Linked DNA regions of Homo sapiens. The protein of the gene in region 2 interacts with the protein of the main gene of each other region in a biochemical or structural test. Each region holds a gene or a part of one and is shown on either strand. Other genes may lie near its edges.

Evidence for each region.
Region 1: the proteins of LRRK1 (region 2) and ENKUR form a complex in vitro, tested with the Homo sapiens proteins (one large-scale study listed by BioGRID).
Region 3: of the proteins of LRRK1 (region 2) and CDK5RAP2, one has a biochemical effect on the other in vitro, tested with the Homo sapiens proteins (one study listed by BioGRID).
Region 4: the proteins of LRRK1 (region 2) and PAK6 form a complex in vitro, tested with the Homo sapiens proteins (one large-scale study listed by BioGRID).
Region 5: the proteins of LRRK1 (region 2) and KIF20A form a complex in vitro, tested with the Homo sapiens proteins (one large-scale study listed by BioGRID).

Annotation. Positions count from the first base shown.
Region 1 is NC_000010.11:24,990,862-24,996,677, reverse strand, and holds part of ENKUR (enkurin), read left to right. Parts: intron 1-808; coding exon 809-1,032; intron 1,033-5,816. UniProt on the Homo sapiens protein: Adapter that functions to localize a calcium-sensitive signal transduction machinery in sperm to a calcium-permeable ion channel.
Region 2 is NC_000015.10:101,060,633-101,066,448, reverse strand, and holds part of LRRK1 (leucine-rich repeat serine/threonine-protein kinase 1), read right to left. Parts: intron 5,279-5,816; coding exon 5,161-5,278; intron 3,876-5,160; coding exon 3,759-3,875; intron 3,048-3,758; exon of another isoform or gene 1,098-3,047; coding exon 244-1,097; intron 1-243.
Region 3 is NC_000009.12:120,403,352-120,409,167, reverse strand, and holds part of CDK5RAP2 (CDK5 regulatory subunit-associated protein 2), read left to right. Parts: coding exon 1-41; intron 42-699; coding exon 700-821; intron 822-1,919; coding exon 1,920-2,156; intron 2,157-5,054; coding exon 5,055-5,132; intron 5,133-5,816. UniProt on the Homo sapiens protein: Potential regulator of CDK5 activity via its interaction with CDK5R1. Negative regulator of centriole disengagement (licensing) which maintains centriole engagement and cohesion. Involved in regulation of mitotic spindle orientation.
Region 4 is NC_000015.10:40,240,422-40,246,237, forward strand, and holds part of PAK6 (serine/threonine-protein kinase PAK 6), read left to right. Parts: intron 1-177; 5' UTR 178-260; intron 261-5,816. UniProt on the Homo sapiens protein: Serine/threonine protein kinase that plays a role in the regulation of gene transcription. The kinase activity is induced by various effectors including AR or MAP2K6/MAPKK6.
Region 5 is NC_000005.10:138,181,360-138,186,731, reverse strand, and holds part of KIF20A (kinesin-like protein KIF20A), read right to left. Parts: intron 5,311-5,372; coding exon 5,221-5,310; intron 5,124-5,220; coding exon 5,004-5,123; intron 4,410-5,003; coding exon 4,271-4,409; intron 4,147-4,270; coding exon 3,959-4,146; intron 3,872-3,958; coding exon 3,742-3,871; intron 3,564-3,741; coding exon 3,369-3,563; intron 3,263-3,368; coding exon 3,151-3,262; intron 3,045-3,150; coding exon 2,976-3,044; intron 2,771-2,975; coding exon 2,627-2,770; intron 2,494-2,626; coding exon 2,328-2,493; intron 2,221-2,327; coding exon 2,056-2,220; intron 1,926-2,055; coding exon 1,786-1,925; intron 1,638-1,785; coding exon 1,535-1,637; intron 1,221-1,534; coding exon 1,022-1,220; intron 772-1,021; coding exon 680-771; intron 439-679; coding exon 301-438; intron 1-300. UniProt on the Homo sapiens protein: Mitotic kinesin required for chromosome passenger complex (CPC)-mediated cytokinesis. Following phosphorylation by PLK1, involved in recruitment of PLK1 to the central spindle. Interacts with guanosine triphosphate (GTP)-bound forms of RAB6A and RAB6B.

The DNA.
Region 1 (5,816 bases), on a different chromosome or scaffold from region 2:
AATTGTGATGGGGTTAAAATTGGAAAAGGCATTTTCAAGACAGTTGTTGCTTTCAGTTCTTAAAAATAAATTATTTCACATTTTTGCATTGTGGCAAACCATTTGGCTATATTAAAATAGATCAATGGGAATGATCAAACTGAAGAGGCTGTGTAAAAACGGCCAATAAGCAAGAAATACTTCTTCCTTGTATTTATATACTGTTCATATATATATATATACACACACACACACACACACATATATGATCTTTTTTGAGACAGAGTCTCACTCCGTCACCCAGGCTGGAGTACAATGGCATGATCTCGGTTCACTGCAACCTCCGCCTCCCAGGCTGAAGCAATCCTCCCACCTCAGCCTCCTGAGTAGCTGGGACTAAGGGTGCACACTATCATGCTTGGCTAACTTTGCATTTTTTGCAGAGATGGGGTTTCACTGTGTTGCCGAGACTGGTCTCAGACTCCTGAGCTCAAGCGATCTGCCCACGTCACCGTGGGCCACCGTGCCCGGCCTCCTCAACATATTAATTGATTATGTTGCCCTTAATTTATTTCCATTTTAATTACTGACTTTTTTTCTTTTTAAAAAATTATTTTATTGAGGCCTGATTGACAGGTAAAAAGCTGTGCATATTTAATGTCTACAAGTCAATGAGTTTGGGGGTAAGCATAAACTTCTATCTTAAATATTTAAATATATTATGACTGCAACTTCAATATACAAGTGGTGAAATATCTGGATATTATAAATAGCACTGAGTAGCAGTGTTTGTAGTTTAATATTAACAAAGAAATGTTATATTTAACAGAAAAAAACTTTGATCGGAACGTGCCCAAAAAGCCTGCTGTGCCATTGAAGACTGATCATCCTGTCATGGGAATACAGAGTGGAAAAAATTTTATAAATACAAATGCAGCTGATATCATCATGGGAGTGGCTAAAAAGCCTAAACCAATTTATGTTGATAAAAGAACTGGAGACAAGCATGATCTTGAGCCTTCAGGACTAGTTCCAAAGTACATCAATAAAAAGGTAGCCTTGTGGTATATTAATAAGAGGGCTGAAATTCAAATAATTTAAATATGGTGTTCATGATGATCATCTATGTTATCATTATTAGTGCTCTCATTGGACACATTGTCTACTTTGCTGATTCTCATTCTTCTGCAATCTGTGTTTGGTCCAAATGTAATGGGATGAAGTTACAAAGAACCCATAGTAAACAATTCCATATAGTTCAGTAGATAAAAGTTATTGTTTTCCTTAATTTTGATTATTAACATATTTAACAATTTTAATAAACATTCTCTGAAAGATATTTTTGGTTAGTTGGAAATGTCACTAAAAGCAGTCATTACTGTAAATCTAGAAGGAATAAGCTGTCAGATGGTCTTAAGATTTAGTCATTAATTGCAGTAACTTGGCAGCTGAATAAGAAAAATGAAGCAGAATGCAGCTTTAGAGCCATCCATCTCATCAGTGTAGTATAAATAATTCACATTCCTATTTTAACATGAATATATTTATTTGGTTTTGGTTTTGGGTAAAGACTTGAAAGTACTGTACAATAATCTAGTCCTTTTGGGTCCTTCATTTGTATCTGAAAAGGTGTGTAATTTCATTGGTGAACATTATAGTTTAAATATAGATTTTTTTTGAGACATATTCTCATGCTGTTTCCCAGGCTGGAGTACAATGGTGCAATCTCAGCTCACTGCAACTTCCAACTTCCGGCTCGAGTGATTCTCCTCACTCAGCCTCCCAAGTAGCTGGAATTACAGGCATGCATCACCAGGCCTGGTTATTTTTTTGTATATTTAGTAGACAGGGGGTTTCACCATGTTGGCCAGGCTGGTCTTGACTCCTGACCTCAAGTGATCCACCCACCTCAGCCTCCCAAAGTGCTGGGATTGCAGACATAAGCCACTGCACCCAGCCAAATACAGATCTTTAAAATAAAAAAGCTTACAAAAAATCTTATTTAATGCTACTTTATTTTGCGCACTTATAAAGCTTAAAAGTGCTTGAAACACACAAAATATGAATGCAGGCTGGGCACAGTGGCTCACAACTGTAATCCCAGCACTTTAGAAGGCCAGGAGGATTGCTTGAGGTCAGGAGTTCAAGTCCATCTTGGCCAACATGGTGACACCCCATCTCTACTAAAAATACAAAAATTAGCCAGGCGTGGTGGTGTGTGCCTGTAATCCCAGCTACTCGGGTGGCTAAGGCACGAGAATCGCTTGATCCCAGGAGGCGGGGGTTGCAGTGAGCCAAGGTCGCGTCACTGCACTCCAGCCTGGGTGACAGAGCGAGACTCGGTGTCAAAAAAAAAAAAAAAGAGTGCAGAATTCTAAAGAATAATAAGTTGCATCAAGAAGAAATGAAGGAAGGGAGGGAGAAAGGAAAGGAAGGAAGGAAAAAGGAAGAGAGAGATAAAGAAAAAGGAAGAGAGATAAAGAAAAAAAGAAAAGAAATTGCAATAGTGATGTACAGGGACCTAAAATTGAAGAGTCCAGTGATCTACCATGATAAATCCAATGCCAGTGGAAAATCAAAACAGGACCCTCAAGGCTGTTTTCAGAGGACACTGTCTTCTCAGGAATCTAGGAGTTCCCAGGATAAGCCAATAAAGTTACTTCAGGCTTCTCCAGGTACTTCCTCCTTCTGTGGCCCCTGGAAACTGTTTTATAGTCGTTGTCCCACAGGATAGGGAAAAGTGGAAAACTCACTCTCATGGCTCTTAAAGCCACTTCCAGTCCATTATTTCTCCATGATCATATGAAAAGTCTTTACTGGTCATGCCACCACCTGTCACACACTCTGCCCCTCCCTTCTGGCTGCTCTCTAAGCTGTCCACTTGAATGCATTTTCTACCTTCAACAGGAAATTTGGAGTATCCATCATGGAAACAGAAAAATACCAGAGTTTACCAAACCATGAAAGCACTGTGCACCTAATGCCCTTTTGGTGTTGCTGACTAAGCAATCAGTGCTCATGAAAGACTTACTCAATTTACTTTTCCCTTATCAGAGTTAAGTTTTAAAGATCTATCATTGGTAGGTGAGATAGTAAATAAATTCTTTTAAAGTCAATGTCATATTTTTATAAAATGAGTGAACTCCCATTTCAGCTCCAAGTGAATTATATGCCATTCATACCATGAGAAACAATTTCTGAAAACAAGCAAGGATAGATGATCACATGAGGTATTTAGCAATACCAGTAAAGACATTCTTTCAAAGTCTAACTCTGCCACTTAGTAACTGTGATTTCCAACAATCCATTGGATTTATCACAGGGTTGTAGTGAGGATTAAATTATATAAAGTATATTGAGCACTTGACACAAAATGTGACACCTAATAAAAGAACAAAGAGTGAATAGTATAATATATGCAATTTTATTAACAGTATGCATTAGCCTCCGGTGATTCAGCCCATAGGAATATTTCAGATCATTGAAGCTTTTGCTCATTTGTGAGTTTTTTTTCTGAACTGTATCACACCATTCCCTTTCTTTTTAAAAACACTTAATTTAATTTTTTTTAGAGATGGAGTCTCACTATGTTGCCCAGGCTGGTCTTGAACTTTTGGGCTCAAGCAGTTCTCCTGCCTAGCTGTCCCAAAGTGCTGGGGTTACAGGCTTGAGCCACTGCGCCCAGTCATTCTCTTTCTTAAACAGAGTATGCCAAATATAATTTAATCTTTCTGTGATCCTGCAGAATCATCATGATGAAGCTCCATTATTGTACTAAGCTGTAATGAGGTGTTTCCTTCAGTGTTTCCTGAAGTGGATTGGCCTGTCTCACTCACTGCACCAGCTGACCAGAATACTGGCCTCCCAGAGTCTATTTGTATTGTCCTCTGCAGCTTCCAGAACACATTTATATCTAGGATTTCTATCCCTTGTTCAGTCAGGATGGGTTAAGTTACACTGTGATGACAAACAATCCCCAAATTTCAGTAACTTAAAGCAACAAAGTGTTATTGTTTGCTTTTGCCACGTGCCCTTTGAGGGTTGTTACAGGCTCTGCTTCTTGTCCTTCTTCCAGGACCCAGAAAAATCTAAACATTGCTTGTCACTAGACCAGACAGGAAAAGACACAGCAAGTCATCCACTAATTCTTAAGACTCCTATCGAGAAGTGGCAGAGGTCACCTCCACTGACACTGAGCAATTCAGGGCATATGGCTACATCTTACTTTATGAGGACAACACAGGAAAGTGTTGTCCTACCAAGTGTCTAGAAGGAGAACAGAATATTTGTCAGAATTTTAATGACTACCATACCTCCCAACTGCTGCTTCTTCGGAGAGTTCCTCCCCGACCTCCTTATTTATCTAAAATAGCCCCTATTATTTTCTTTTCCCCCACTATCCTTCTTTATTTTACTTCAGAACACATACATATTATTTCATTCTCTATTTTTGGTGAGTCTCTGTCACCATAGAATGCAAATTCCCTGAAGACGGAAACTTTGCCTTTTTTATTCACTAGTATTCCTAGCACCAAGTACATTCTCAAACATCTTTTGAAGAAGGAATACATAGTAATTCTGTTTCTATAGATGGTGAAATCAAACGCATTTACTAAGCTGAAAGAATCACAGCTGATGGCTTCACTGTCAGTCGTTGTGACATGGGAAAATTCCCTTATTCCCCTCGCAGAGTGTACCATAGGGCTGTGGCTCACTTCTTCAGTGCCCCACTGCTCACACTTCTAGGGGGAGCATGCCGAAGGGCAGGTTGTGAGGCTCTGACTCCAAAGCAGGGTCTATGGGTCGATGTTTACAGCTCCTGAAGCCGCAGTGGGCGTGTGTTACAGGGTGCTCTTTTGGTTTAGCTGTCCATAGGTGGCTTGTGTTTGCTCAATTAGACTCCCTGCCTTATGACAAGGACAGAGGGCTTCCAAAGGACTTTCTGTATCCCAGGAGTCTTGCCTTGGTATACTTGAAGAATTGGATCACACGTGGGCTTGGAGAATGAGTGCAAGGTTTTATTGAGTGGAAGTAGCTTCAGCAGATGGGAGAGCCAGAAGGGAGATGGTTTTTCCCTGGAGCCGGGCAGCTCTGTGGCCCGGGCTCTCCTCCCACCACCCCGGCCAAACTCTGCGTTGTTCCACTGATCGATGGCCTGCCGGCATGCTGGTGCCCATTGGTGTGCTCTTTTGTTGGCACGCCCCTGTCAACAGCCTCCACTTATACGTTCTTCCATTGATGTGTTCCTCTCGACGTCCAGCCATTTGTGTGCCTGCCTGCTAGGGTCTCGGGGGGTTTTATAGGCACAGGATGGAGGCATAAGTTTTCAAAGACTTTGTCTTTTCTTTAACGAGACCACGAAAAAGAGACTTCAAAATATTCAAGATATTTCAGGTAAAAACTGAAGCATGTAGAAGGTAGAAGGTAGAAAAGCCAACTCTTGAATATCTTATTCAAGATATTTCAGGTAAAAACTGAAGAACGTAGAAGGTAGAAAAGCCAACTCTTAGGAGTAAAGTATCAGCCAGGAGCAGGCGTGGGAAACATTCAGAAAAGGGAAAACAAGCAACTGCAATAACAACTCCATTTATTTATGTATTTAGAGATGGAGTCACACTCTGACACCCAGGCTGGAGTGCAGTGGCACCTTGGCTCACTGTAACCTCTGCCTCCCAGATTCAAGAGATTTTTGTGCCTCAGCCACCCGAATAGCTGGGACTACTGGCACATGCCACGATGCCTGGCTAATTTCTGTATTTTTAGTAGAGACGGGGTTTCACCATGTTGGCCAGGCTGGTCTCGAACTCCTGACCTCAAGTGATCCACCCCCCCACCCC
Region 2 (5,816 bases):
ACTGTGGCTTTCCTTGTGTGGCACCTTAAGCTCTCTGGCAGGCAATAAGCTTTTGTGCGGCCACTCTTAGATTTGCTAAAGCGATCGCTTCCATTCCCAATGGAGGAAACCAACCCTCTTGGAAGAACAGCACCTGCCTCCCCACATGACCTGTAAGGAAGCCAGGGGGCTTCCCCTTGCTCTGTCCCCAGAGCAGGAGCAGTGGGCGTGCCCTGGATGGTGCCCTCACCTCGGGAAACGTACCTGGGGACCCAAATGAGGTCTCTGACGGCGAGGATCTTCACGGCCTGCAGGTGCTGGCTGAAGGTCTCCCCGTCCATGGGGGTCAGGTCATGCTCAGACCTGTCGGAGGCAGCACCGGGCGTATGTAGCATGTCTGAGTCCTCGCAGTCGGTGGAGAAAGGCACACTGGAAGAACTTGCTGGGGAGCTGGGGAGGCTTGAGGGGGACCTGGCAGCCTGGCGGGGTGGGGATGAGGAGTAGGAGGACATGGAGCAGTAGTCAGTGAGTGATTCCTGGTGGATCAGGATCTGCGTGCCCAGCTCCTCACTGTACATGATGCTCACGTCCGCGATGGAGTCCCCCTCAGGCACCTTTGGGTTGGCCGTGTGGCTGGCTGCCGGGGGTTCCGTGTCCAAGGGCCGCACGGGAAACATGTCCCTGAGGGGGCTGGGGACCCCGCAGAAGTACCGGGCACACAGCTGGTAGGTGGTGGAGTGGTACATCACCAAGGAGTTGGCCTTGTCATCCAGGCACCAGACGACCTCCTCCCCTCTGCCCTCAGAGCTGCACACGACTGACGTAACCATGGAGGGGGCCATGTAGGGCTCCAGCCGCCTGCAGATCTCCAGGGAGGCACAGTCGATGACAAGGAGGCCCGGCCCATTGCTGTACCAGACCTCAGAGCCGCTGTTGACCACCTCCATGGCCTTCACTGGGTAGGGGTTCTGCCGTGCGTCTTCATCCGCGATGCTGAACTTGGACCTGTTGGCTGTGTGTGAGCACAGGTAGGAGCAGCTGTCCTTTGGGGTGCCCCGCACCACGGGAAACACAGCCACAAGCCCATCGGCGAGGCCCGCTAAGACCAGGTAGGAATTCTGAAGGAAGGAGACAGGGATGTGTCACATCCTTCCATTTCACACATTCCAAGAGAGACACAGAGTAGGCACTGGACTCATCTGCACCCACACCAGGCGGGCAGTCACTTTCCACCAGTGCGCCTCAGGGCAGCAAATCTCTTAGAAAGGCCGGGGCTACTCCTAAAGAAGTGCAGCTCTGACTCCGCAGAGCCATATCTACCATCCCTGCAGCAAAGAAAGGAATGTGCCACCCAGAGGCAGGGCCTGTGGCACCAAGTAAGGCTGCGTGTCACCTGGACCACATGGGCTGCCTCTGCTTCTGCCAGCTTCTTGCAGGGCGAGCAGCAGGGAGCTGCCTTCTCCTTGAGGCCACCAAGGCCTCCTTCAGAGGCAGGACCTGGTGCCCCCGCCCTTTTCTCGGTGCTGCTTAACATGACAGCAGTGGGGGCATGGCAAGCATCTGTGCACTGCCCCCTGCCTGCCACCCCCCCCACCAGGCAGAGTGTTCCATAAGGATGGGCTCCCAGCCCACCAGCATCCCCGTGGCACTAGCCTGGCACAGGGAAGGGCTCAGTCTCCTTCATCTTGGTGGCCCTGTGACTCCACCTGGCTCCTGCTCCAAGTGGATGACATGTGTTTGCTGAACTAATTCTGGAAGAAATCGCTTCCTACTCAACCCTCTTCTGGAGGCCTGTCTCAGCCTGCTGAGCCCTCATCCCAGCTTACATCTATCGAGATGCCTGTGGTTCAGCTGACGTTGACAGGGTCCTCAGGGTGCCCCCCACCCCCTCAATGAAGCATGAGCTCTTCTACACCCGCCAGAGGTCACCGGGCAGAGGCCAAAGTTGCAGGGACCTTGCTGAATGCTGGGCCCACCCCAGACCGCCCCGGGGCACCTCCCAGGGCAGAGCCAGGAACAGAGTGCAGCTCCGCAGCCTAGACACCGCGTCGGCTGTGGTGGGGGTGGGAAGAGGTCTGCAGAACAAAGCTGGAGTCAGGGCAGAGCAGGGAGCTGGGCCTCATGCCAGTGAGGGGGCAGGGCAGAAAGCCTCCTTGTGGGGAGCTGGGGGAGCTCAGGAGGCTGGCTGTGCAGGGCAATGGAGTGGAGACCCGTAGCTCACTGTCCAGGACAACATGCTCTAAGAAAGCGTATCGAAATCCATCCCCAGGACTTTAGGGAAAGAAGGCAGCCAAGGCAAACAGGCTCCAGGTCTCTATCTGCAGTCCTGGCTCAGGCCCCGGCCAGGGCGGTGAGTGCCACGTCCCGGCTGGGTGTGAACGTGGGTGCGCGTGCAAGAATGCAGGCTTCGCGCTGGCGGCCTTGGAGGGGGCAGACACCCTGCCCAGGAGGCCCTGCACAGAGCAGGCTTTATTCCCTCTGGTCGTGCAGGAGGTGGTGCCCTGGCTGGGGGCTCTCGCCAGCGGTGGCCTCAATAACACTTTGTGTCGTGTTCTCCTGCGCTCTGGTACGGGCCTGGTCCCAAGCTGCGTAGCCTCGCTGTGGGGCCATGGTCATAAATGACTCTAAGGTTCATTTCATACCTGTTTTTTTTTTTTTTAAATGAAACTGAAGAAGGGTGAAGAGAAGAGTTCATGTATTTTGCGACCATCCAGAAGTAATAATAATACTCATTTACCAAGCACACCGGCCTAGACCTTTGGGTATGCTAGGCCTTCTGTCTCTTCTTATACCTGTTTTGTAGATGGGCAAACTGGAATTGGATGATGACAGTCACATTTTAACAAAGCAACACCAGTAAAGGCTTCTTGTGCATTTAGTGAGGGCGCCTATGCACAGACAGGCCCCTCAGGGTGGATGAAACCAGAGCTGGCTGAGCCGTGCCTGAATCCTGTGGGCGGAGGAGCCCGGAAAAGCCAGGGAGCTGCCCCCCACTGAGGGGCAGCTTCTCAAAGGAGGGGACAAGGCCCCGGGTCTTGAGAACTGAATCGGAGGCCGTCTGGGAAGAGGTGCGTGGAGGGGCTGTTCCTGGAGGAGGCTGGGATGTCAAGGGCCCAGCACAGAGTGGGGTGCTTTGTGGGGAGGGTGCCGGGCCCAGCAGGGACTGGAGGCCAGCCTCATAGAGGCTGGGGCTAATCCCAAGGTGCAGCACAGCTGGCTGGGCCTTTAATGGGGAGAGTGCCCCTTGGGGTCTCATTTAGAAAGGCCAGGGCTAGGAGGTTAAAGAGCTGAGTCTGCAGGGCTATGCTGCACAAAGAGAAACTGCGTCTGGTGTAAGACGGCGAGTACTTGGCGGGAGGCAGAGATGGAGGGAGGGAGATCAGGACCTCCAGGACCTGGTGATCAAGTGGCTGTGAGGTGGCTCTGGCCTGGGCAGGTGGGGAAGAGGCTCCGGATAGGGGAAGGGCACACGCATGACTGCTCACCGTGCCATTTGTACCAACAGTCCTTCCACCTGAGTCAGGGCATTTGCATGTGAAAGGGGGTTTTTCATTCGGCCTGCAGTCTGGCTGGGGACTTGACTTAGGTTTTTGCAAACCGGAAGGCACTAATGACGGACCAGGTCTGATATCTTTCCTCCCACCGTCTCTAAGTCTACGTCCTAGGCCAGGTGGTCCTAGGTGTGGCTCTGCAGGCGCCACCCTGACATAGCTAGGAGACGCCTCCTAGGCGTGGAAGTGCATCAGAGACCTGCATACCTGCCTTTGCCCCGACCTCACCTTTTTAATAACAGGCACGGCCAAGAAGCAGGTGACGACAGCTGGAGTATCCAAGGCCTGTTGGGGTGTGTTTAAGGGGCACATGCCCTTGAGGGTGTAGATGTAGATTTTCTGGTCCTGCAGAGGCAGACAGGTCCACTGTGAGACCCAGGCTGGAAAGTGTCTGGCATTTCCCAAGCCATTCCCATGAGGATGCACTTGGACTTGGGGATCCCCTATGGGTCTTGGAAAGTTACATGGATTGACACGTTCTGGTGGGTTGTTTATGGATTTCTGCTCTTTGTAGAAACGTTGAAAAAGACAGACTAGTCTAAAGAGGAAACAGAAAATAGCCCGTCATCTATTCCCCAGAGAAAACCAACATTGGGATCTGGGGGCACAGCCTCTCAGAAGTTCTCTGTGGTATTTGTGTGTGCACCTGGTACTGGCAAAGTGGACTCACGCCGCAATGCTGTCTTCTCACTGTTCTTCCCATGTGAGACAGCATGCTTTAGGCAGAGCCCTTGCTTTCCTCACTCTAGGAGGAAATGTTCACTGTTCTTCCCATGCAACAGCACGCTTTAGGCAGAGCCCTTGCTCTCGCCCATTCTAGGAGGAAATGTTGTGGGAGCATCTCTTGGATGCCTGGGACTGGGCTGCACCTACTTCGGCTAATCTGTTGTCAGATGTTTCTTAACACTGAGATTTCTGAGGCTTAAGTGGTACGCAAGGCTGGAGTGCAATGGTGCGATCTTGGCTCATTGCAACCTCCACCTCCTGGGTTCAACCGATTCTCCTGCCTCAGCCTCCTGAGTAGCTGGGAACACTCACGCACCACCATGCCCAGCTAATTTTTGTATTTTTTAGTAGAGACGGGGTTTCACTATGTTGGCCAGGATGGTCTCAATCTCTTGACCTCGTGATCCTCCTATCTTGGCCTCCCAAAGTGCTGGGATTACAGGCGTGAGCCCCTGTGCCTAGCCTGCCTCAGAACATTTGTGTTTGGCCAGTTGTCTCGGGACTTCTCAGAAGACCCCTCCTTGGGCCTTCTAGTGACTTCCCTGATTTCCCTGATGTGAAGGCAAGAGGCCTTCAGAGCTGAGTGACTAGCAGTGTTATGGGAAACACAGGCACGTCCCTAGCCTCCTGGGTCTCGTCTCCTGCTGAGGGTCTACATCTGGTCCTCACCATCGCAAATCCCGGCCTCCAGCCAGCAGCAGGCAGGGTTGAGCTGCCCCTGGTGACAGGCTGCTACTTCTCGGGGCTCCTGGCATTACTTGGGGACTGCACGGGGATGCGCTGGGGGTTATCTGAAAGTTCACTTGACCTGGCGTCCTGTATTTTTATGAATGTGGCCCCCACCCAGGGCTGCACCCAGTGGGCAGTGCTTACCTCGGTGGGCAGGCCTGCGGGCAGTGCTTACCTCGGTGGCTGTCCACAGGGATCTCTGGACCTGGAGCTGGCAGCTCACCTTCATCCCAGGGCAGCACATCCTCTGCACCTCCATGAGGCCCTTCTCTGTGTTCACCACCGTGTAGTTCCTGTAAGTGGCAGAAACTGTGCTGTCAGTGCCCGGGGGCCAGGGGCTGCCTCCTTTCCCTGAGCCTGGCCTGCCAGCTGCGAGCCTCGTCTACCTCCCCTGCTCCCACCCAGGGTTGCATCCTGTGTTCTGAGAGGGCAGAGCCGGGTTCTGCCCGAAGGGTAATGCTTGACCGTCGCCCGCAGGAAGGGCATTCGCCAGAGAAGAAAGGCTGTCCTCTTTCCGTGACCCCTCAGGGTTGAGACGGTTGCCCCCAGTACGAAGGAGGGGCCCTCCCGCCGGCCATATCCTGCCCGCCCCTGTTATGCGGGGAGCTCCTCACTGTAGAGTAGACAAAGCCAGGGCTAAAGACAAGTTGGGAGAATTCCAGAGGAGATTGGGTTGGGGCGGGGGGGCACTCAAAATGTGCTCCCAGCACGAGTGCTCTGAGAACTAATGGCTTGTCATTTGCGAGAGCCTTGGCTCACCAGGCCGGCTGTCCCCGGCATCGCTGTCTCCCCTCAGGCTGTGGCGGGCATCCTGAGCACTCACTGCATGGC
Region 3 (5,816 bases), on a different chromosome or scaffold from region 2:
CTGATCCAGGAGGTCCGCTGCAGCGGCCAGGAGCTGAGCAGGTAGTGGCTGTGCTTCCCTGGTGGCCTGCTGGCCGTACCACGCATGCAGGCACTGGGCTGCAGTCGTGGAATCAGCACGCAGGCCTCTGCCTTAGTGCACAGTGGCAGGCAGTAGACACAAACACATTGTACGTCTGGTGCGCCTACAACATATGGAGAAAGATCCTGTAAGGAGGAGAGGGCTTGGCAGTGGGTTGCTGTTTTTTGTCAAGGGTGAGTCAGGGAAGGCCTTTGTGAAAAGATGCCATTTGCTCAGAGAGCTGAATGCAGTGAGGAGGTGAGTGCTGCAGCTACCTGGGAAAGATCATTTCAGGCAGAATGGGCGCAGGCCCTGAGGCAAAGTGGCTTAGGCCTGTGCCGGACAGAGCAGGGCAGTGTATCTGGAGAGGGGGCTGGCAGGATACCAAATCACATCGGGCTGCAGAGTCAGTGTGAGGACTTTGGGTTTTCCTCTGAGTGGCATGGGAAGCCACTGGGAGATTCTGAGCAGAGGAGTGGAATTAGGATTAGAGAGCACATGGAATTCTTAACCATGCTTGTCACTTCTTGGTCCACACTCTTGTGACTGAGGGTGGAATTGGCCTGCTCTGTGGGGTTTGAATAAGTTACCCTGAGGTAGAATTAACCTGTCCTTCTCATGCCTGTGGGGCCTTCTCAGGGTGCAGGAGGAGGTGAAGTTGAGGCAGCAGCTGCTCTCACAGAATGACAAGCTATTGCAGTCTCTCCGAGTGGAGCTGAAGGCGTATGAGAAGCTGGATGAAGAGCACAGGAGACTGAGAGGTACTGAGGCCCTTCTCACCTTGAGGCTACTGTGCTTTGGGCTGTAAGACCACCCGACAGCTGGCTGTAGGCACAGGAGGGCAGAGCTCAGCCCTCTCCACTCTGGCCTTGTGGGTAGAGTGGATGGGTGTTGAAGCTAGCTCTTTGACCCACTCTTCTTCTGAAGGAACAGCAGGAAACATAGAAGGACTGAGGCTCAGCACCCAGGCCAGCCGAGGTCCGGGTTCCCACTCACTTGTTCCCAGCTATGTGACCCTCAGTAGGCCACTTCACCCTTTGAGCCCATACCTATCTCTGTAAAACATGTCTCTCAGCACCTGTTGTGTGGAGAATTGTGTTGAAAATTGAATGAGACCATTTATTAAAAGCATCCTAGCAAGATACCTGACACATAGTAGGCACCCAGGAAATGACCTTTATTATAATCGTCCTGCTAGTATATGTTACTTTTTGCCCACTCATTCAGCAAACATTTATGGACACCTCTCACGTGCTGGGCATTGCTCTGGGGATGGTTGTTGGCCTCGTTGCTCTCTGTATCCCAGGAGAGATACCAGCTCAGAGTGCTTCAACTATAACGTCTAATGTTTCAGAATCAATTTTGAGGTGTGGTGAGGTGTTTTTTTTTTTTTTTTATTTTACTAATTTTCCAGATGGTTTCTCTCTATTGAAAGTTTATCTAGAAAGGGGTCATCTCACAGCTTTTATTTTCTCCTCAACTTGCTTTTTTTATTCTTGCTGTTGTGTCTTTTTAATATAGTGTGGCTCTTAAAATCATCCCCTTTCATTCTATAATTCTAGCCCAAATAGATTTTATTACTACTAGACATAATTTCGGGGTTTGGTGTGCAATTTGCTAGGCTTTTATGGCCAGAAGCGAAAATTAATTTCCAGCTCTTATTTAGCGTGTGGAATAGCAGCAATTAAGTCTGCCAATATTTTTGTTTCTAAAGTCAAGTTGTTATTTTAAACTGTACCTAGTTCTTAGGAAGGGGGAGGGCGATGGTGGTGGTGAGTGTAAAATGCGATTGAGTTCCTTCGATGGCTGACCCTTTGGTTGTGGAAGATGTCAGGGCTTCTCTTTGCACATGTCCTCAGAGGCGTCGGGAGAAGGCTGGAAGGGGCAGGATCCTTTCAGGGACCTGCACAGCCTCCTGATGGAGATCCAGGCTCTGCGCTTGCAACTAGAAAGGAGCATCGAAACCAGCAGCACTCTGCAGAGCAGGCTCAAGGAACAGCTGGCAAGGGGGGCAGAGAAGGCACAGGAAGGAGCCCTCACTCTGGCTGTCCAAGCCGTGTCCATCCCTGAGGTGCCCCTTCAGCCTGACAAACACGGTACTGCCCCTGCCTCTCCCCACTTGCTGAGAATGCAGCTCTGAGCATCTGTGTGTGACATGTGAACTTCTGAATGATGCCTTTGCCCCACAGAGGTGTCTTTCCATTGATAGCTGACATGCTGTACCCTAGGAGCCAGGGGACCTGACTGCTAATTAATTAGCGGTCACCTTGGGCAAAGTGGCGTAATCTCCATCTGAGGCATCTTGATTCTCAGGGAAGTGGAATTTGGACTTCCAGACACCCTCAGTGCCTCTGGCCTTGCTCCCTCCTATCCATTTAGTCCTGCCTGCATCACTTTGATGCTGAAATTTCTTTTAGTTTCTCTTACTGCCTTTAGAAGGGAACCTAAACATCTTAATCTGGCTTTCAGTGTCTTTCAGGATCTGAAAATCATCCTGATAGGTTTAAAAAGTGGATCTGTTTTGCATTTGTGTGCAGGTTAATTGCCTAGCCCTGGAGAGGCTGTGGGGGGTACGAGAAAGAGGACCAGACACCTCTACCACCCGCCCACCCAGGGTGTGGAGCAAACCAGTAAATGGTTAGACTCCAAGCAATCAGGCAGCCTGTCCTCTTTGCTCTAGAGATGAAAAACAAAGGCCCAGAGAGTGGATGGGGCTTGCCCAAAGTGGCACAGCAAGTAGGCAGCAGAGCTGGAGCTAGAAACCATTTCCAGCTTCGAGTCCAGGGCTGTTCCTAAACCCCACTGGACTCTCTGGAGCGTTGGGTATCCTGGGATTATCATCCTGACACCCATAGGGTAAATGTGTGTATCCAGTGGGATGAGGAATGCCAGCCTGCTTTACAAGCAAGTATTGTACTAAAGTTTGGACTGACTTTTACTTGGATACCTCTAGTTAAAAAAATAAAAATAAATCTCTTAAGGAGCACCTGGTCAGTCCGCTCGTAGTGATTAGTTCATTGATTTCTCATTGACAAGGATCTTAAAATTTAATCAAAAAGATGATGTAATAATATGAAAAAAGTGAACAGAGAAAAAAAGTTCATGATTCTACACATTGATCATTTTTTAAAATTTGCATATTTTTTCATTTATTAAATATGAGCATGAATTTATATTTTTCAAATTGGATTTTGTGTCATTGTGTGTCCTTTCTTTGTTTTTGCCCAATATTACATCATACATGTTCCCTGTGCTTTCACATGGGCTTCCTAATGATTGTTTGCAGGCTATTCTCAGTCACCAATCCATGACCCCGTTGATTTATTAAAGTGGTCTCTGATTTGGAGCCATAATAGACATCAATGTTAATATGCTTTTTGCTGTTAAATAATATTCTTAGGAGAAAACCCTACAAGGGGAACCTCATAAGTTTGGAAAGGTGCCATATTGCCACCTTCTAAATAGTCTGTACATCAGCAGTGTACAAAGGTAGTGGTTTTTGTGTGACCTCAGCATTGGGCATTACTATTTTCAACACGGGTCTGCACCTGGCCCTTTTTAAGGCTTTGAGGAGATGGGATTCAGGAACTTGTGGGGTAGGCTAGGGGAGTTTGAAGCAGGGAGAACAGTTCTGTGCTTGGGGTACCCAGGAAGGAGAGTTGGGTAGCTGAAGTGAGGAGGCCATCAAACAGCCTTTACCTGCTTTTGAAATTTGCCGAAAGCAGCCCTCATCATGCCTGGCAAGAGGCATCCAGGAGAGCATTCAGAATTCACAGTGCTGCCTCAGCAGAAAAGTTTTATAATTTCCTTGAGTCAAGATCAGAATTATAGGCAGCAGCATTTCTTCCTTTGCAAAAGACTTCTCAGGTCTGTATTTAAGTGCATCTGTTTTAAAAATTCTGTTCTAAAGGCTGATGTCTTTCACTGAGAGTGATTCCTCTTGGGGCCAGCTCTATGGAGCTGACCTCCTGGCTCCTTGGCCTTAGGAACTGTAGCACACCCCTGGGAAATGCTGGAGTGCAGTCAGCCCACCGCCCAGTGGTGCAGGAGCTCGGAAGGGGGATCCTAAGCCCTAGGCTTCCTTGCTCTGTGCCACTGACATGCTGGGTTATGCTGGACAGATCACTTTCTATCTCTGCCCCTTGGTCTCCCCTTCCATGAAATCTGAATTACAGTGTGTTTTGCCCACTGAGCTATTGAGTCCAATAGCTTTTCATATGTGAAAGTGCTTTCCAAATTATAACGTGTTGCACAGGTCATCTGTACAGCATCTATTGGTTTTGCCTCCTTACAGTGTTGCAAATACATCACCCCCCAGATCCTATTGTGGGTTACTCTCATCTCTAGCTTAGGTTAGTGTGGCAGCCTCCAGACTTACTCTTTCAGTACAAAATACAGACCTCAGCTTGACATTGCCTTGCCCAAAGCCCTTGAGTGGGCCCCTCAGTCCTCTTGGTTCTGGCCTTGCATTCTACTTTGTCCTTCCCTGCACCCGGGCCTTGGGTCTATGAACTGCTTATTTCTCCCTGAGCGATGATTCCACTCTTTGTCCCACTGTCTGCCTCTCACCTGCCCATTGTGCTGCCTGGCATTTCTTTCCCTCCTTCTTACCATAGGTCAGTCACAATCAGTCTTAAAACATAAGGTTTTAAAACGGGTATTAGCCTTTGGGAAGCCAAGTTGGGGGTAGTGCCCCTCACCTGAGCCCCAACAGCCTGTGTTTCCCTCCCTTGTCCTTGATCACACTAAAATAAAATTGCTTATTTACTTTTCTGCTGAGAGTTTTTCTAGGGAATGGACTGGGCCTGGTCACTCTGTCTCCCTGGTGTCCCACAAAGGTGGGCTTGGCAGGACAGAGGCCCAGTGAAGATTTGAAGGAATGCTGTGTGTGTATGGATAAGTGAATGTGAGGGGCTTGACTGTATTCTCTTTCAGTTCTCTCTTGAATGCTGACAACAGTGAAACTAACAGTTCTCGTGTTTTGCATTTTGTAGATGGTGACAAATATCCCATGGAAAGTGATAATTCATTTGATCTGTTTGATTCCTCCCAGGCAGTGACACCAAAATCAGGTACAAAGCTGAAGTCCAGGTAACTGTGGGAGCATTGGATGTGACAGTAAGACTTTTTAACTTGCAGAAAAGGGGGGTCCCTGGTCCCAACTCAGGAGGGTATTTGGTAAGGATTTGGGATTTCAAGTTCTCAGCATCCCCAGCTGGTGATCTTCTCCTTCAAGCCAGTTAATCCACTCCTAGGTGTTACCAAGGTTAGAACATCATTGGGTCCCTCTTGCCTTAGATTAAAATTGTGACCACCTTTGTGAGGCTTTCAAGGCCCTCCAGGATCCAGCTCCAGTGGGTCCGTCCAGCCTTATCCCTTAACCTGGTGTAGCCACACAGGGGTCACCATCCTGCAGACAGGCCCACACTTTCCTCTCACTGTGACTTTTAGACCCCCTTTGTCCCACTCTTTGCCGGTAGAAGTCCCGTTTCCTCAAGACTCATCATGAATACACATTTCTCTGTGACATGCCTTTGCTGCTGTCCTTGGTCAGAATGACTCATCATTCGTGTAATTCTTGCTACTTGCTCAATCCAGTTCAAATGCTGCTCCTTCTCAGAAGCCTTCCCTGTTCTCTCCCTCCCTGCACAGATAATTGTTTTTTCTGGCTCTGGCCCTTCATCACTCTGCTGTTGCACCTTCTGCAGTGTCTGTGTTCTGATCAGACTGTGGGCTACTGGAATGCAGGCACCAGC
Region 4 (5,816 bases), about 61 Mb from region 2:
ACACAGCTGGCAGCTTTGCGGGCACCAGTGAGTAAGCTGCCAGAGGGAGGGAGGCTGTGTGCCCACAGTGGCAGGACAATACCAACCAGGAGCCTTCAAGAGAAGAGGCTGGGTGAGAAAAGCACTGAGGTTTTCTTTTCCTTTTTTTTTTTTTTTTTTTTTCTATTTTGCCTGAAGGGAGTGCCGCTTCCTGGGCTAGAGACAAGCACCAGCCTGCAGTGGAGAACGCAGGACCCCGCTGCCCAGAAGGAGCAGCCACGGTAAGGTCCCCACTGCCGCTGCGTGCTCCGGATTCCTGGGCTAGGGACGGGGGTGCCAAGGTGTCCAGGCTGCCTCCCACCTGGGACAGGGAGGCTAACTCCACAGCTGTGGGTTCCTGGGTCAAGGGGCTCCACTCCCCACCCGGCCTGCCACCTTCTTTCCAGATTGATTGTGAAACAGTCCAATCCCAGCTGGTCTCTGGCTCCCTAGCTAGAGGGAGAGGTGCTTGTTTCTACTCTTCCTGCCCCAGCTGGGCCAAGCCAGTGCCACCGGGACACCCCTATCCAAGGCCCCTCTCACTTTACCACCTCTGGGACATTTCCCTTGTGTATTCATTCCACAAATATTTAGGGAGCACTGCTGGGTCCCAGGCTCCAAGTCACACCCTTTGGCTGGGTTTGACCTGGCACAGATTCTGACTCTGAAACTCAGCATCAGGGCAGGTTCAGGGAGCTGCCTGGCCAAGCACGGTCACTCCTCACAGGCCTTGGTCTCCCCACCCCTGCTGCAGGGTGGATGACCTGGTCAGCTTTGGGGACATCGGGCCCAGTGAGCTCGGGTTTATAAAGCACTGGGCCCCACCGGGAAGCAAGGCTAACGTCTTGTGGTCTCCAGTTATCCTTTCCCTGGCATTGTACACCAAGAGGTTTGTGCCGTTCTGCCTGGGGTCTTCCTGAGGCTGGTTCTGGTGGGAACTGGGCTGCAGGAGGAGAGGATGAGCTTAGGAGCCGTGTGGCCCCCAGGCCTGGTGGGCCTGGGACTCAGCCCCACGGGAGCTCATCTAGCTGGGGTTGAGGCCTTTGGGGCAAGCAAGGAGTCCCCTCTGCAGGCAGGCTTCCCTGGCGGTTGTCCTGGCCCAGGCTTGGAGGTGGCACCTGGGAGCCCTAGTGACAGAGCGCCTGGTCAGGGAAGGGTCGGCACCAGAGGCAAGCCCTTCTGGGAGCAGCTGATTTGGATGGAAGCTCTGTGCACCTGAGAGGGGGAGTGTGGGGACTGCACGGCCTCTCCAGTGCCCCGAGGACAAACTGATGCTTTGTGAGTGCTCTGGGCCCTCCCGGACTTGCCAGACACAGGGAGGGTGCAGTGGGTGGGGTCTCCAGCCAAGGAAAGCCCGCTCTGTGCACAACTCCTAAGGATGACCAAAAAGTCCCCTGCCCTGGAGGAGCACATGTGCTCAGAGTCAGGAGGAACCCATAAGTGTCTCTCATGCCAGTGAATTCCCACACCTGGCTCCTGGATGAGGAGAATGACCCAGCTGTGGGGGTATCTCATGCTGCCTCACAAAAGGTGACTCTGTGCCTAGGAGTCTTCCATGCATGCAGAGCTGAGCAGGGGCTGCTGCCCAGTTGGGGTCAGAGGGGCGGAGGCTGTCGAGCACTAGGTAGACAGCAGGCCAGCAGCGGGCAGCAGGTTGGGCCAGGAGGGAGCAGAGAGTAGGGGCCAGGGCAGGCTGAGCAGGAAAGGAAAAGGCTGCCTGGGGTCCTGAGGGCTCAGGGAGGACTCCAGACAGCTGGCCTTCTTATGCCAGCCCGCTTCTGTGGGAGAGGCCCTCTGCGTAGGTGACTGGGCAGGGAAGAGGCTAAGACACTGAAAGATTGAATTCCTCACCCAAATGGCCCAGAGATGCCCACCGCACACAGTGTCCTGGGTGCAGAAGGCAGGAAGGACTCATGGGAGGCTGTCCTGTGGACTGAAGCAGAAAGTCCTTCCCGTAAGATGCGCTCGTCGCCCTGAGCAGGAAGGCCCAGGCTGCGGAAGCAGTGCCTGAGACCTGAGCAGCAGGAAGGACACCAGTAAAGCTCATCAGGAGGCATCTGGCCGCCTGCACCTACCGGGCCTCAAGGAGAGAGCTTATTTCTGGGAGCCTCCTTGGTAGAAAGAGGTGGACTAGCCAGCAGGTTGGGGAGGAGCATTGCAAATGGAAGCTTCTGAGGGCAGAATGAGTTCTGAACTTGCTGAAGCCAAGGCTGGCCCTCCTGCCCAGGGCGAGCAGTCTGCCTGGGCCTGGGAAGTTGTCCCCTTCTGAGGAGGTGCCCTCCACCCCACCAGAGCTCAGCCCTAGGGGCCAGGAAGGGCTAAAGCGAGAAGAGTGAGATGTGAGATAAAGGGGACCGTGTCTCTTCCTGGGAGGGTGTGGGGTCCAGGCAGCACCTTGTTCTGGCGCACAGGCTGCCAAGCAGATGACAGCCATGGCCTGACTACTAGGTGCAAGCACTGGTGGCAGGAAGAGGGGGTGGACAAAGCAGGACAGAGCTCTTGCCCTGGGGATGCTCATAGCCCTGCAGCAGAGCAGTGGAAAGGAAAGCTGAGCTGAGCGTGGGGCCAACCGCGCCAGAAACAAGCGGAGCCACAAAGCCACCATCAGCCCCCAGGTGGCTTCGTCCTTTTGCCAACTCTGGGTCCAACTCATCGCTGAAGTTGGCAGCCATGACCCATCCAGCCCAGATAATTTATAAATTTACACCAATACTGGGCAACGGTTCTTAACATAGAACTTTATAAAGATGGACAAAAAAGATAAGTTGAGAATGACAAACAAAGGAAGAAGCAGCTTCTATCTGCAGTTGCAGGAGGAGGTGAAGGCTCGGGGAGATAGACCAGGGCGGGAAGAGGCAGGATGGTGGTTGGTTAACATGAAGTCAGCAGCATGAGCCTCAGGCCCGGTGCTGCCTCTTCCTGGTGACTCGGGCAAGTTACTTCATGTCTCTGGGTCTCAATTTCCTCTCCTGTCCAACAGAGATAATTATAGTACCTATGAGTTAGGGTTGTTGAGAGGATTAAATAAGATAATAAGTGAATGCTCTGAATGGCATGACTGGCACATACGTACATGTTCAGCAAGAGATAACTATTATCACCGTGATGATAACTGGTGTCAGAGGAACAAAGTGCCAGGAGAGACCATACCTTGTTCGGGGGAATCAGGAAAGGCTTCACGGAGGAGGTGACTTTGAAAGAACCCTCCTCTGAGGAGAAACAAAAGCTCTCAGAATGCCCAGGAAAGCTGGGAAGAAACAATAATGCCAGGTCTATTTTTTTCCCAAATAGCATATTGTTTGTCCACTGAGGCTTTCTAAGGAATAACTTGAGACTCCTCTTTCTGGGGTCTAGACTTGGAGGTCTTGAGGACTTGAAGTGGGCTGCCCCTAGTGAAGGGATCGAGAGCCGGGCTGTGGCCCTGGCCCTACTCCTTTTGGGGACTGGAAGCTTTTTTCACATGCTGGTCCTAACTGCATGAGGAACTGTGTTCTGCTGAGCCCCATCTAAAGCATACACTTGGTGATGTGGCAGGCAGAGGGGCCAGACAAGGCCACGGCAGGCTCCTGGATCACTCTGGCAAGTAGCTTAGAAATGCCTAGTAATCGTGGGCAAGGTGCAGTGGCTCACGCCTGTAATCCCAGCACTTTGGGAGGCTGAGGTAGGCAGATCACAAGATCAAGAGATCCAGACCATCCTGGCCAACATGGTGAACCCCGTCTCTACTAAAAAATACAAAAAATTAGCTGGACGTGGTGGCGCGTGCCTGTAGTCCCAGCTACCCGGGAGGCTGAGGCAGGGGAATCGCTTGAACCCAGGAGGCGGAGGTTGTAGTGAGCTGGGATCGTGCCACTGCACTCCAGCCTGGCCACAGAGCAAGACTCTGTCTCAAAAAAAAAAAAAAAAGGCCAGTAATCGTGAGGTTCCATCTCAGAGACTTTTGTTTTCTCTTTTTTTCTTTTTATTTTTTTTTTTGAGACAGAGTTTCGCTCTTGTTGCCCAGGCTGGAGTGCAGTGGCACGATCTTGGCTCTCTGCAACCTCCGCCTCCCTGGTTCAAGCGATTCTCCTGCCTCAGCCTCCCAAGTAGGTGGGATTACAAGCACCCACCACCATGCCCGGCTGATTTTTGTATTTTTAGTAGAGATGGGGTTTCACTATGTTGGCCAGGCTAGTCTCGAACTCCTGACCTCAGGTGATCCGCCGACCTCAGCCTCCCAAAGTGCTGGGATTACAGATGTGAGCCACCACACCCAGCCTGCTTTTTCTACAAAGGATTATCTGTTCTATGAATTTAGGAAAGGTAATCCTAAAGCTTATTCACCTAAGAAAAACAAGGCAACCCCAGAGCATGACAGGCTTTCTTGGGCTGGGGGAACTCACATGTGAAAAAACAGGTTCCCTCATAACTACATGAGAGGCCGCAACTGCCTCAGCCCCAGCAAAGGGACACCTCTGCTGGCCAGCATTTCCTACAAAACCTCATCACGACACATCAGGCAGGGCAGAGACCCAAGTATTCACATAGGGCCAGTGATGACTTTTTTTGACACCTGTGGATTCTCCGTGGCAACCTATTCCCCAAAAGTGCTGCCTCGGTCAGCCAATCCCAGTGTCTCTCTGCCTAGGCAACAATCTCTTGTGCTCTGGTCTGCCCACAGCCTCCATGCACTCAGCTCTTTGGGCCTCTTGCTAAGGGGCTGGAAGCAGAGCTGTGTCCTTCAGGCTGTCAAGGACCTGGTGAGGGATCCTCTGGGTGTCCAGGGAAGCAGGTTCAGAAAGCTCAGTTCAGCTGGTGCTGTATTTTGATCTCTGATCCCAGTGCAGCGGGGACCAGCCTACTCAACTCAGTGCAGATAGCAACAAACCAGTCACCTTGCCCAAGACCTCCTGCTGCCTGCCTGCCTGCCTGGTGACCAGGACTCCTAAAGGCTGCAGCAGCAGCAGCAGAGTTAAAACTTTAAAACCGGGAGGACTGGTTCTGTGGCTCAGCTTCCTGGCCTGGAGAGGCTCTAGCCTCCATTTTCTTTCTTTCAGCTTATGGAATTGTGCAAGAAAGCACAGAGGGTGGAGGGAGCGAGGGGACCAGTTATGCCACAGCCTCCTGCACCACCAGAGCACAGTCTCAGATCAGCAAAGAGGAGCTCTGAGGAGGAAAAGGCTGCCCCAGGAAAGAGCTGGCCATCTCAGATTGCTGTAGCACATTCAAGCCAAAGGGAGTCCCCGGAGGATGTTTCGTCCAGCCCCCATAATTTTAGAGCGGGAAACAGAGGTCCAGAGAAGGAAAGTGGGTCCTGAGGCCACACAGCTAACTAATGGCAGAGTCAGTTTCCAGCCCAGGGATCCCCAGCTGCCTGCCCAGCACTCTTGCTACCCAGGCTGAACCCCCACCCCCGTGCTACCAAGGGGCCCATGCAGGAGCAGGCAGCAGCCACTGGGTAACTTGATGGCTTGGGAGAGGCGGCCTGGCCTGACACATTGGGAGGCTGGGCAGGTCCCCGCTTTGCTCCTATTGTGCTATTTGGGTGCCTCCTGCCATCCCCCTGCATTCTGCTAGACCTGAAACCACAGCCCAGCCCACGCTTGTCAGTCAAGTGCTTCCCGAGGATAAACTTTGCACACAGCACCCAGGCCACTCTTGGGGACCAGGCCACTCTCTGTTGAAGAGATCTAACTAATTTATAAATTGATTGATTGAAGTTCTTTTTGTCCCAGGTAACTTCATGTCTTAGGCCAAAGAAGGGAGTCATGATGAGTGCCAGAGATGAAACGGAGATTCTGGGGCAAAGGGTAGGGGAG
Region 5 (5,372 bases), on a different chromosome or scaffold from region 2:
TTTTCTTAGTAGTACATAAAATAATGGTTTCTTATAATCAGTAGCATCTTAGATGAAATATGACAGTAACTACCTCCCTAAGGTGGTTGTGACAGAAAATGCCTATAAATTACTTAGCACAGTGCCTGGTACTTAGTAAATGCTTAACAAAGAATAGTTATTTTTATTTTGCAAATATACTGCTCTCACTATAAATTCAGCCTAAAAATCTTTACCTTTTTCTTCTGGTCCTCTTTCCTTTCTCACATATACACTGGAGTGGGCTGGTAGGACAGAAGTGGGTATATAGTTTGCCCTAACCTGTTTGATTAAGATGTCATCACAAGTGGTCAAGGCTTGACGAAGTTTTCCTGCCCCAGTGCTGTGGCAACAAGCTCTCTCTGCTGATTGGAGAGACTCACCAAGTTTCTGAAGCTCTGTCCGCAACAGCCTTATATTCTGAAAAAGGGGAAGTAGGAATCATATTGTGGCCAAGAGCAACCAGGATAATGATCTGGAGGGGTCAGGTAGCCATTTGAAGAGAAGTAAAATTAGAAAGGCTAGTCAGCTGAGTGAAATAGCCACTCTCCAGAACTGTGCACAAAAAACATCTTGTCTTCACATGAACCAGTGATAGAGTGTTGGATGTGGGAAATTGCCTTAGGTAAGAGTTTGGTAAACAGAGAATGGTGGTAATTACCTTCTGGCCCTCTTCTAACTTCTTGTCCACATCAATGGTGAAGGGCTTGGCTGAGGGTGGTGGTTCTAACATTTTCTGATACTTATGCAACTCTGAGGGAAGGAAACAGGAAACTTAAAATATGTGGGGTTTTTTTAGCCTTGGACTAACCTCTTTAACTGAGGTAACAGTAGCTTGCAGCAAATATAAAAAGTGAGGCTATGTGTATCCTAGATTGAAATGTCAGGGGGATGTAGCTTGCAGTTTAGGAAATTATGTTAGAGCAGGAGTTAGAAGGCCTGGGTTTAAGTAACAGCTCTTCCCTGAACCACTGTTATGTTTCCTGCCTGTCTCTTTCCTCACCTTCAGTGGTAGAGTTTAGCTCTGCTTTGCACTGCTGTAATTTAGCTTTAACCTCCTGAAGCTGCTGGGTGGAGGCAGAAGCTGCCAACCTTTGTGACCGCCGTAGGGCCAATTCAGACCCTGATTGCTGATGGGCCACTGACTGTTGTCTGGCTTCCTGCAAGAGAGCTTCTAGCTCTTCAATCTTTTCATCCCGCTCCTAAGAGGGAAGCAGAGAGCACAATTCTTTGCAGAGCCAGAAAAATATTGCTAAGACAGATGACTGAACAAACAAAGCACTTGTGACACTGATCCCTTGAAAACCTGTTGTTAGCACTTAATACGATTTCCTGGCCAACTAAACCCTTAATCAATTCACCAAACATAGATTGAACCCAAAGCACTATGGGGAATAGAGAAAAGGGAGTTATATATTCCTGCCCTTACTGGAGTAGTTTATAAAATCTCTTTACTTCAGGCAAGCTAGTGATGGAAATCTGAGCAGCTAATTGGAGCTGGCTCAGGGCAACTCACCTGAATCTCTTCTTGGTAAAAACTTGTCAGTGACTCCTTGAGGATATTTAGTTTTTCTTCATACATTTCCTCCAATAGTTCCTTTTGGGTGTCCAAATGTTCACTGTCAGAAACAGAGGAGAAAAGAGAGGTAAGTGAAGGTTCTGAGGAGTGAACTTGGGGAACAGATCTTGAGGCACAACTCCACCTAACTCCTTACTTCCCACCCTCTGTCTCAGGTGACAGAGCAAGAGGGGTCACTCAGCTAGTACCTGCACCACTGTTCCCGCTGTTGCATCTGTTCTACCATCTCATTGCAAATTTCATCTCGGAGATGCATCTCCAGCTGTAGCTTTTCCTGTCGTTCCTTCAAAAGCAGTGTCTTCATGGCTTCCACAACTTGTAGGAGCTCCTAGGAGAGACACACATGTCAGAGGTCATCAGATGCTCATGCCCTCAGAAGGCACAAGCCCACCTGGAAGGCACCATGGAAAAATGTGTAGCTACTAAGCTGCTACACTAAAGCTTTCTTGTATTCTCACCTCTTTGCCATACATGGAGATGTCAGCTTCATTTTCAATATCATCATCAAGGCCTGTGTCTGCCTTAGCCCCTTTCTCTAAGCTGGGGGATACCTGAAGACTATGTTCCTTGATGAACGAGTGCAGGGATGGGAATCCCAGTTGCATAGGTGGGGCATGCACAAGCTAGAGGGAAAAAAAATATCTTACTTGACTCCATAAGTAGTCCCTAGGAGCTTTCTTAGAGTTACCAGTTCCAAGTGCGCACACCCATCACACCTCTAGCTTCTCACCTGGCTAGCAATGGCTGAGAACTTGGCCACATGAAGAGTTTCATCATAGGTAGATGCACAGGGATTCACATTGACAATCATGCAGGAACGGCCTCGGCCTGTGAAGAAACCTTGGAACACTCGAGTCAACTTGCTGTCACGGAAGGGAACCAGGTTCTGCTTTGACCTGGCAGAGAATCAGAGATAATAGAGCTGTGAGCAGAACACCAGCCCTTTGGGTATCCTAGCACCATCCCCAGTGGTGTCCAGGAAGTCTCTTAGCAAATTGCAGAGCCCAGGAATTATAGTCAAAAGCTCACCGGTTCTGCTGGTTTTGACGAAGGGCAGCAATACAGCGGCCCAGGGTGTGTAGAGAGGTGTTAATGTTTCCTGCTTCCTTCAACCGTTCACCACTCTTCTGATCTTTGCAGCGCTCTGAGCCAGCCAGATCACAGAGTGACAGCCTAGAATGATGCACAGGATCTGACATAAGGGCCTCACATGTTATGAGCCTTCTGGCCCTTTGTATAATTCTGGAGAGGGGACGGCCCACTAAGAATCTCTGTACCCAAAGAAGGAGAACACATAGTTCCCCTGAGGACCTCCTCCATGCTTTCCCAACTATCATTTATGGCCAAGAAGCCCAAATTTCTAAATGGATAAACTTACTCGCTGATCTTGGGGACTATATCTCCTTCCCCCTGAAGGTGTAGGATCCTGATTGAGAAGATGCTGTGACTGGAAGTTAAGAAAAACAAAAAGTCATTGCACATTTTCCATGACCAGGCAGAGGACTAATGTTTCCTGGAACACAGTGAAGAGTTTATTCTTACAATCTACTCACCTGCGGCTGGAGTTCTGGTTGAGGTGGGTGCTGGCAAAGCTCTGGTTCTTACGACCCACTTTTAGGAGCTTCCAGGCCTCCTCAGCATCTTGCACATGAATCCAGTTGAGATCTGGGGCCAAAGGAGAGGGGTGTAAGATGGGAACATCCAACTCTTTTGCCAGTCTCTCCCCAGTTGCCCTCCAGGGTTCATGCCAGCTTTCCCCATGTTCCTTTACCTTTCACATAGGGATTGCCATTTTGATCCTCGCATAGCCGCAAAGTCTGCCTCTTGCGCTGTTGGCTAGGCGGTTCTAATAGGTCATAAAGCAGTTCGTTGTAGATCTCAAAGAATGAGATCCAGATGGAGAAGCGAATGTTTGCCGGGACAGGTAGTGGGGCAGTGTCTGGCTGTGCCCATCGATGACTTGTTTCTGGAGAAGAAGCCAATGTATAGGGCATCAACCTAGAGCAGTTCACCTCTCTTTTGGCCTGCAGGGGCCTTGGAAGGCAGACCTTAGATTGCAACCTCTGGTCTGTACTCCTGGCAGCTATTAGGAACAGGGAGTGAGTTCCTACTATTTTTTGGCAGAGCCCAGTCACGGTACATACCATCCAGCTGGCTACTGCTGGTACACTGACTGATAGAAGAGAGCCCAGCAATGCCACTGTCGAAGCTGGTGCTGGTACCTATCCGACTTTCGATGTAGACACTCCTCTTCAAGGAAGTGGACAGCTCCTCCTGGAGGGGCACAGGGAGAAGGTAAGCACAAAACTTCCCCGAGATTTGTACCCCCTACCCCCACTGCCATGGATACCAATGCTTTACCTCTTGGAGGCCTCCATTTAGCAGGGACAGCTTCTTCATTTCCTCCTGTCGGATCTGCTTGCTGTCTAGCCAGATTACCTCATTGGAGAGCAAGGGCTTCAGATCAGGTGTTGGATGAAGTTGGCCTTGGAGGCTATTGAAGATCAGCGCCAGGGACCGGGGGAGAATCCCTCCATCCTTGATGGTACCTGGAGGCATATGAAAGATGGACAGCTGAGGCAAGTGCCCTTCTCCCCCTAACTCAGAGTCTCAAAAGGTAAAAACAACACCATTACCAGCCAATCAGGAATCCCGTGAAGGCTTACTACTCACCTTGAATCGTGTGGGTTTTCCCTGAGTTAGTGACTCCATATGTATAGATGAGCCAGTTCTGCCCTTTGAGTACATCCTTTACCATCTCCTTCACAGTTAGGTTGAAGAAGGATGCCTGTCCCACTTCTGGCCCAAAGATCTAGAGAGAGACCCAGTTTTTTAGAGGCCTCTCCTTCATCTCCCACTTGCCTCCTGTGCAGAGCCAGCAGATATATTCCTTCCTGAGTGGTTGGCTCTGGAGACCACTCAAGCAGCTTCTTCCTGCAATGCTGCTGGCTGTTCCCTAAACACTGAGGACTCAAGCACTCTCTGCTAGTCCATCTTTCCACCAAATCAACAAACACTTAAGGAATGCTATGCCCTAGGCCTGATGCTGCACACACAATGGGGCAATATAATGGCCCACAAGTATGGGCTTTGGAGATACATGGATCTAGACTCAGGTCCTAACTCTACTAGTGACTAGCTACATGGCTTCAGCAATATTACATTCATTGAGCCACACTATCCTTGTGAGGAAAATAAGGAAATAATGATAATAACAATAGAATTTTTCAGAACTGATATACATATGTTACTTGACACATTGACTAACACATAACTAGGGCCCTCAAAATTGTAGGTGTGCATATACAAGGAACTCACAGTCAGGAAGAGAAGCTTTCCCTCTAAAGAGGGAATAAAGTTGCCCTTACATGTTGGTCTTTTGTTCACAAACCAGTACCCTCCATACCTGGGAAAAGGTGAACCTGTGTGTGGCTTGGCCAATTCCCCGTTCATTGCTCTTCAGGGCAAAAGAGTCCTTGGGTGCTTGTAGAACAAGGGTCTCCACATTCTCAATACGGACACAACCCTGAGAAGGGAGAAAATACAGTTGTCACAGAAGGCATTCCTGGGAATCTTTTGTACTGCATCATTTCACCTTGAATCCTCCCTTCTCAGACACTTACCTGATCTTCCTGTCGTTCCAACTCTGAAGGTAACAAGGGCCTAACCCTCAAGTATACTTTCACCTTCTCCATACTGTCCTCAGATGGAACCTGTGGCAGAATCCCAGCCCAGAACCACAGATTAATTTCAGCAGTTACCTCTGAGCAAATGG